Linked DNA regions of Homo sapiens. The protein of the gene in region 2 purifies or fractionates together with the protein of the main gene of each other region. This does not show direct contact. Each region holds a gene or a part of one and is shown on either strand. Other genes may lie near its edges.

Region 1 (3,500 bases), on a different chromosome or scaffold from region 2:
CCTGAGGGAAAGCAATTGGAAAGACCATGGATTTTTCATTAGAAACCATGCAGGCCAGAAGGAAAGGATGCAGTATTTTACAGGTGCTCAAAGAAAAGAAGTGTCAACTAAATAATTCAATATCCAGTGAAAATATCAGAATGAAGGGGAAAATGAGACCTTCTCAGGTGAAGGAAAATAAAGACAATTTATCACTGGCCAATCTACCCTAAAGAATGGCTAAAGGAAGTTCTCTAAACAGAAAGGAAATGAAAAAAAGAGGAACCTGAAAACATCAGCAAAGAAGAAAGCACATAGTAAACAAAAATGTAATTAAATAGTCTTTCCTTCTGAGTTTTCTAAATTAGGTTTAATGACTGAAGCAAAAATTATAGCACTGTCTGATATAAAAAAAATATTTAAGACAATTATATATGGAGGATGGCAAAAGGACATAAAGGGAGGTAAGGTTACTATACTTTACTTAAACTTGTAAAATGATGATACAGACTTCATTTAGATTATAAGACGACACCAACTGACTGTTGTATGTACAGTATAATACCTAGAGCAACCACTAAAAAAGCTGTATAGAGAGATACACTCAAAAACACTATATAGATAAATCAAAATGGAATTCTAAAAAATATTCAAGAAACTCACAGGAAGGCAAGAAGAAAACAAAAACAGAACACAAACAAAAAATAAAGTGGCAGAACTAAGCTCTAGCATATTAGAAATTATATTAAGTGTAAATTTAAATATACCAATTAAGACATAAATCAGCACAGTGGATTAAAAACATGCCCCATGATATGGTTTGGGTATGTGTCCCTGCCCAAATCTGAGGTCAAATTGTCATCCCCAAATATTGGAGGTGGGGCCTGATGGGAAATGATTGGATTATGGAGGTGGAGTTCCCCTTTGGTGCTGTTCTCATGATAGTGAGTGAGTTATTGTGAGATCTGGTTATTTAGAAGTGTGTAGTACCTCTCCCCTCACTCTCTTCCTCCTGCTCCAGCCATGTAAGATGTGCCTGCTTCTCCCTCACCTTCCGCCATGACTGTAAGTTTCCTGAGGCCTCCCCAGCCATGCTTCCTGTACAGCTTGTGGAACTGTGGGCCAATTAAACCTCTTTTCTTGATAAATTACCCAGTCTCAGGTAGTTCTTTACAGCAGTGCGAGAACGGATTAATACACCCCAACAATATGCCACCTATAAGATATCACTTCAAATACAATGATATGGGTAGGTTGAAAGTAAATTGATGGAAAAGATGTATCATGTGAATATCAATAAAAGGAAAGCAAGAATAACTATATCATCAGATATAGGCTATAATATATCAAGTAGCCCTCAGATACTTGTATAATATATCAGATAACAAGTAGACCTCAGAGCAAAAGAAATTACCAGAGACTCAGCAGGTATTATATAAAGATAAAAGGGTCATGCCACCAAGAAGATGTTGCAATTCTAAATGTGTATATATTGAACAACAGGGCTGGGTGCGGTGGCTCATGTCTGTAATCCCAGCACTTTGGGAGGCCGAGGCAGGCGGATGACCTGAGGTCAGGAGTTCGAGACCAGTCTGGCCAACATGGAGAAACCCTGTCTCTATTAAAAATACAAAATTAGCCGGGTGTGGTGGCGCATGCCTGTAATCCCAACTACTTGGGAGGCTGAGGCAGGAGAATTGCTTGCACCCAGGAGGTGGAGGTTGCGGAGAGCTGAGATCATGCTATTGCACCTCCAGCCTGGGCAACAACAGCGGAACTCCATCTCCAAAAAAATAATAAAAAAAATAAAATATGTGAAACAAAAACAGATATAAGTGAAATGAGAAACAGAAATATTCACAATTATAGTTGGAAACTTCAACCCCTGTCTCTCAACAATCGACAGAAGAACTAGATAGAAAAATCAGCAAGGATATAAAAGAATTATATATATCACTATCAATCAAAAAGATATAATTGACATTTATGGAATACTTTACCCAATAATAGCAGAATAAACATTCTTTTCAAAGTACCCATGGAACCTAAAGCAAGATAGACCACATTTTCAGCAATAAAATAAACCTTGACAAGTTAAAAATAATTGAAATCAAATAGAACTTACTCTACTCCCACAATGAATTCCAACTAAAAGACAGAAACAGAAAAATAATGGGAAAATCTCCAAACATTTGGAAACTAAACAATGTACTTGTAAATAATCCATGGTCAAAGAGGAAAGTCTCAAGGAAAGTAAAAAAAATATATATATACTGAGCAAATAAAAATTGAAAATGCAATTTATCAAAATTAGTGGGACACAGCTAAAGCAGTGCTGAGAGGGAAATTCATAGCAGTAAATGAATACATTAAATAAGAGGAAAAGTCTCAAATGAATAAACTACTATATAAAAAAATCAGAGGCCAGGTGCAGCGGCTCATGCCTGTAATTGCAGCACTTTGGGAGGCCAAAGCAGGCAGATCACTTAAGGTCAGGAGTTTGAGACCAGCCTGGCCAATATGGTGAAACCCTGTCTCTACTAAAAATACAAAAATCAGCTGGGCATTGTGGCACATGCCTGCAATCCCAGCTGCTCGGGAGGCTGAGGCAGGAGAACTGCTGGAACCTGGGAGGTGGAGGTTGTAGTGAGCTGAGATCGTGCCATTGCACTCCACCCCAGGTGACAGAGTGACATGCTGTCTCAAAAAACAAACAAAAAATAATAATGAAGCAATGTCAGTATGCAAGAATAAGGGTTAAAAAAATAAAGCAGTGGACCCACTACAGACCCTGCAGACACTGAAAGCATAATACAGGATACTGTAACTCCACTCACATGTATGTAACAACTTAGACAAAATGGACCAATTTGTTGAAAAATGTAAACTTCTATAATTCAGCCAATATGAAGTAGATAATTTGAAGAACCCCGTATCTATTAAAGAAATTGGATTAAAAATGTAAAAAATTCCTAACAAAGACATTTCCAGATCCAGATGGTTTAATCTGGAGAATTCTACCAAAGGTTTAAAGAATTATACCAGTTCTACACCATCTCTTCCAGAAGGCTAGACATGGTGGTTCACACCTATAATCGCAGCACTCTGGGAAGCCAAGGTGGGAGGACTGCTTAAGCTCCGGAGTGTGAGACCAGCCTGGGCAACGCAGGGAGACCCTGTCTCTACAAATAATAAAAAAAAAAATTAGCCAGGCACAGCAGTACGCAGCTGTCGTCCCAATTACTTGGGAGGCTGAGACAGTAGGATCACCTGAGCCCAGGAATTTGAGGCTGCAGTGAGCCATGATTGTGCCACTGTCGCCAGCCTGTGTGACACAGCAAGATTCTGGTGGGGGTGGTTGGGGGGGGGGATGGTGGAAGGAGAAGAAAATAAACGAAGGAAGAAAGACATATATAAATAAATGTAAAATAAATTCATGGACTGGAAGATTTAATATAGTAAAGCTGTAATTTCTTCCCAAATTGGTACACAGGATTAATGCACTTCCTATTAAAATCTCA
Region 2 (3,494 bases):
GAAGGTGGAAGGGGAGTGTCAATTCTGACTGCAGAAGGGAGGCAGCAGACAGTGCAGGAGGGGCTCGAGGGGCCTGGGGAGGGTCTCAAGCAGCCACTGTGGGAACTGGGGCAGGGACGGCCCAAACCTCCGCGCATCAGCACCCAGCCTGGCAGACTCGGGGTACTCACCTGAGGGCAGCCCTGTGCAGGCGGTGACACAGCAGCAACCCTCCATCTCCGGTTAAAACAAGTTTGAGTAAGACTCGGTTGTCTCGCTTTGACGCAATACGTTAAGGAAACTTGTAAAGAATGGCAGATCCTGACCCAGTGGGCAGAAAAGCAGCGGGGGAGGAGTCTGTGCATCAGGAACAGCAACATGCAACTCCGCAGAGGGAGGGGCCCCCGATGTGACAGAAATCCAGAGTAAAGAAAGAGTGGCTCTCAGACCTGGAAGGGCTGGGGTTCCATTCCAGAATCTGGGAACATAGGAGGAAAAAGAAATCGGAATGAGAAACAGGAAACAATAAAATCACTTTAATGTGCTACTCTTCACTTTGGAAGGTCATTACAGTATCATTCGACAAGGAAAGATGCCGCTGGATGGCTGTGTCCTGTGAGTCACTGGGATGAGCTGGCTGCTTTCACCCCACCGGATCCGGGGCTCAGACAGTTACAAGCCCGAGTGGCTGGGAGGTTTGGAGGGAACCAGGTTTAGCTGTGATGAAAGCACCTGGCTGTGGGCTGGGAGGCAGGAGTGCAGGGCAGCCTGGGCTCCCCTGGCCCCAGACTCAGGTCGGCAAGTGCCCAGTGGAGGCCACACAACCCCAGCACCAAGCAATGGAGGGTGTATGGCTCAGTGTTTCCACATCCTGAAAAGTGACACATGAACCGTTTCCTAGGAAAGTTCTCTTCCACCGTGTTCTAGCTGAGACCCGGGATCCTTCCAGTTTCACGAAGAACGTGCAGAAGATGAAAAGAGTGAGGGACGCGGACCTAGCTGTAGCTGCACTCAGCCGCCTCCGTGGTAAAGTCTGGGTGAAGGCCTGGGTGAGTGCAGATAGGAGAGCAGCTCCTCTTACTGTTCTCTGGCTGGGCTCTCGCTCCATCCCTGAGAAACTAGAGGCGAACGCCTCCAGGAAGCCAGCCAGGGGCAACCAGAAAGTCCTTTTGGTGAAGTCTGACATCCCGCGTTGGTTTCTCTGGACCTGGGTAAGAACCGGCCCCAGGGCAAGGACTGTTTTGCCAGCACCAACTCTCCAGCCCAGCTGTTGGTTCCCACTACCTCCGGTCTCGGAGACAGAGAAGCAGCCAGGCTATTCTGAGTGTAGTGAACACAGAGCCGGTCCGAATCCGGCCCAGCCGAGGTGCAAACTCCCTAGGGTCTGCTCCCACTTGGCCAGCCATCTGTCCAGCAGGCCTCAGCCCCAAACACGGGAAAACGCAGAGTGCGTCTAGTCACTGGGTATCACACTGCCCCACTCACAGCCCCCATCAAGGTGACATGCAGGCGGGAGCTTCGTTCCAGGAGGTGTTTGTAAACTTCGTCCTGGGCTGGGTCACTGCAGATGGCCTGTCCTGGTTTCTCATTACCAAACCCCCATGTTTGGTATTGATGCAGGGGCCCATTAAAAAAACCGCTTATGTTTCCACAGACCCACCAAGAGGGAGGGTCCAGGCACAGTTTTTCTTTCTGTATCATCCTAGAATGATGGGGAAATTTCCGCCAAAACTACATGATTGCACGTATCAGGGTGGGTATTAGACTAGGGGGCTGGGGGTGGGTGGGGAAGACCTTTTGTGCGAGGCATTCCTCTGGGCCATTCTTGACAAGAGTTTTCTCCTTCCTTCTGGAAGTTTCTGGCACTGGAGGTGGAAGTCCAGACTGCACATGCCTGGCATAGCATGCAGAGCCTGCCTAGGCTGCGGGTGGGTGAGCACGTGTGGGAGGACCCTCGGCTCTGGCCACCGAATGCCCTATGCTGGCTTGTCAGCCGGGACCCCGCCCCTCCCGCTCCCACGTTAGGAGAACAGCAGTTCACAGATCCTGCGCGTGTCCTCAGGCGCTGTCACGGAGTAGCCCATGGTTCTGGGGTCTGTGAAGATCTCATGGTCATTGCCACCCTGGAAAGACACGAAGTACAGATGAAGGCTCCCCCTCGTCTGTCCCGGGCCATTGCTGATGTGACCCTGGAGTCCAAAAGTACCCAAAAAACAAGATTTAACTGGGCAGGGAGAGTTTCTTCAGCTACCTTCCTCTTAGTTTCCAGGAGAGGAACGTGAGTACAATTGTTATTAAGAAGAGATTTATAACCTTCTCTTGAACTGCAATTTGGCTTGGAACACGTAATTATGCCTATGAGAGCCATCACGATGTTCTTGCGAAGATCTGTCTAAGGCTTATTTTTCTACACAGAAGGCATCAGCGAGTGACAGTATTCTCACAGCCATCAGTTTTTTTTTTTTTTTTAGCTGTACCTACGCTTTTCTAACAAGTCACAAGGGAGCGTCAGGAGGGCAGAGGGCCGGGAGCAGGGCTGCCAGGGATATTCCTGTGATGAGGGACGTGGCGACATCAGCGGTGATGGCAGCCACTGGCCATGTGTCACTCTGCACACTTGAAACGTGGCCAATGCAATGGAGGAACTCAGTTAATTTGATTTTAATTTAAACAGCCCCACGTGGGCCGGGCATGGTGGCTCATGCCTGTAATCCCAGCACTTTGGGAGGCTGAGAAGGGTGGATCACTTGAGGTCAGGAATTTGAGACCAACCTGGCTAACACAGCAAAACTCCATTTCTACTTAAAATACAAAAATTAGCTGGGCATGGTGGCGCACGTCTGAAATCCCAGCTGCTCGGGAGGCTGAGGCAGGAGAATTGCTTGAACTCGGGAGGTGGAAGTTGCAGTAAGCCGAGATCGCACCACTGCACTCCAGCCTGGGCGACAAAGGGAGACTCTATCTTAAATAAATAAATAAATGGCCCCACATGACTGGGGTCTGAGCTGCTGGCTAAAAGCAGGGTCTCTGGAACAGGTGGCCTGGGTCAGATGCTGGTTCTACCACTGAGCAGCAGTGTGGCTGCGCCAACTCCCCATCTCCAAAATGGGGTCATGATGGAAGCTTGCTCACAGCTCTGTGGCCAGAAGTTCAGGAGATGATGGTTGGGGTCACACCTTGGTAAGATGACGAAACCGAGGCCTCAGAAAGTCTGCAAGGGCCCATGTCTAGGAGGACCTGGGCATGTTCTGCTGGGGTCCTGTGCCTGAGTTGAGTGCTCCCATCTGTGTCCCCATCACCCCCACCAATCCCACTGGGCTCACGTTAATGAATCAGGTTATCTGCCGCTCCCGCAACCCCGAGCCCTGCAGGAAAGCCCCCGTTTTTCTCATGGAATTCCTTTATTTCCCTCATAAAATTGGATAATCACTCTAACTCAAAACCTTAAAATAATCTACGATTGCTTTACAATACAATGAACACAACCGTAGAAAAAAGGGATTTTTCTCATAAAG

What was found. Proteins that work in one complex are often made in the same cells at the same time.
Region 1: the proteins of PMM2 (region 2) and GAB2 purify together in Homo sapiens (co-immunoprecipitation; one large-scale study listed by IntAct). This does not show direct contact.

The regions. Positions count from the first base shown.
Region 1 is NC_000011.10:78,407,821-78,411,320, forward strand, and holds part of GAB2 (GRB2-associated-binding protein 2), read right to left. Parts: intron 1-3,500. UniProt on the Homo sapiens protein: Adapter protein which acts downstream of several membrane receptors including cytokine, antigen, hormone, cell matrix and growth factor receptors to regulate multiple signaling pathways.
Region 2 is NC_000016.10:8,846,332-8,849,825, reverse strand, and holds the end of PMM2 (phosphomannomutase 2), read right to left. Parts: intron 2,103-3,494; coding exon 2,001-2,102; 3' UTR 501-2,000; downstream 1-500. UniProt on the Homo sapiens protein: Involved in the synthesis of the GDP-mannose and dolichol-phosphate-mannose required for a number of critical mannosyl transfer reactions.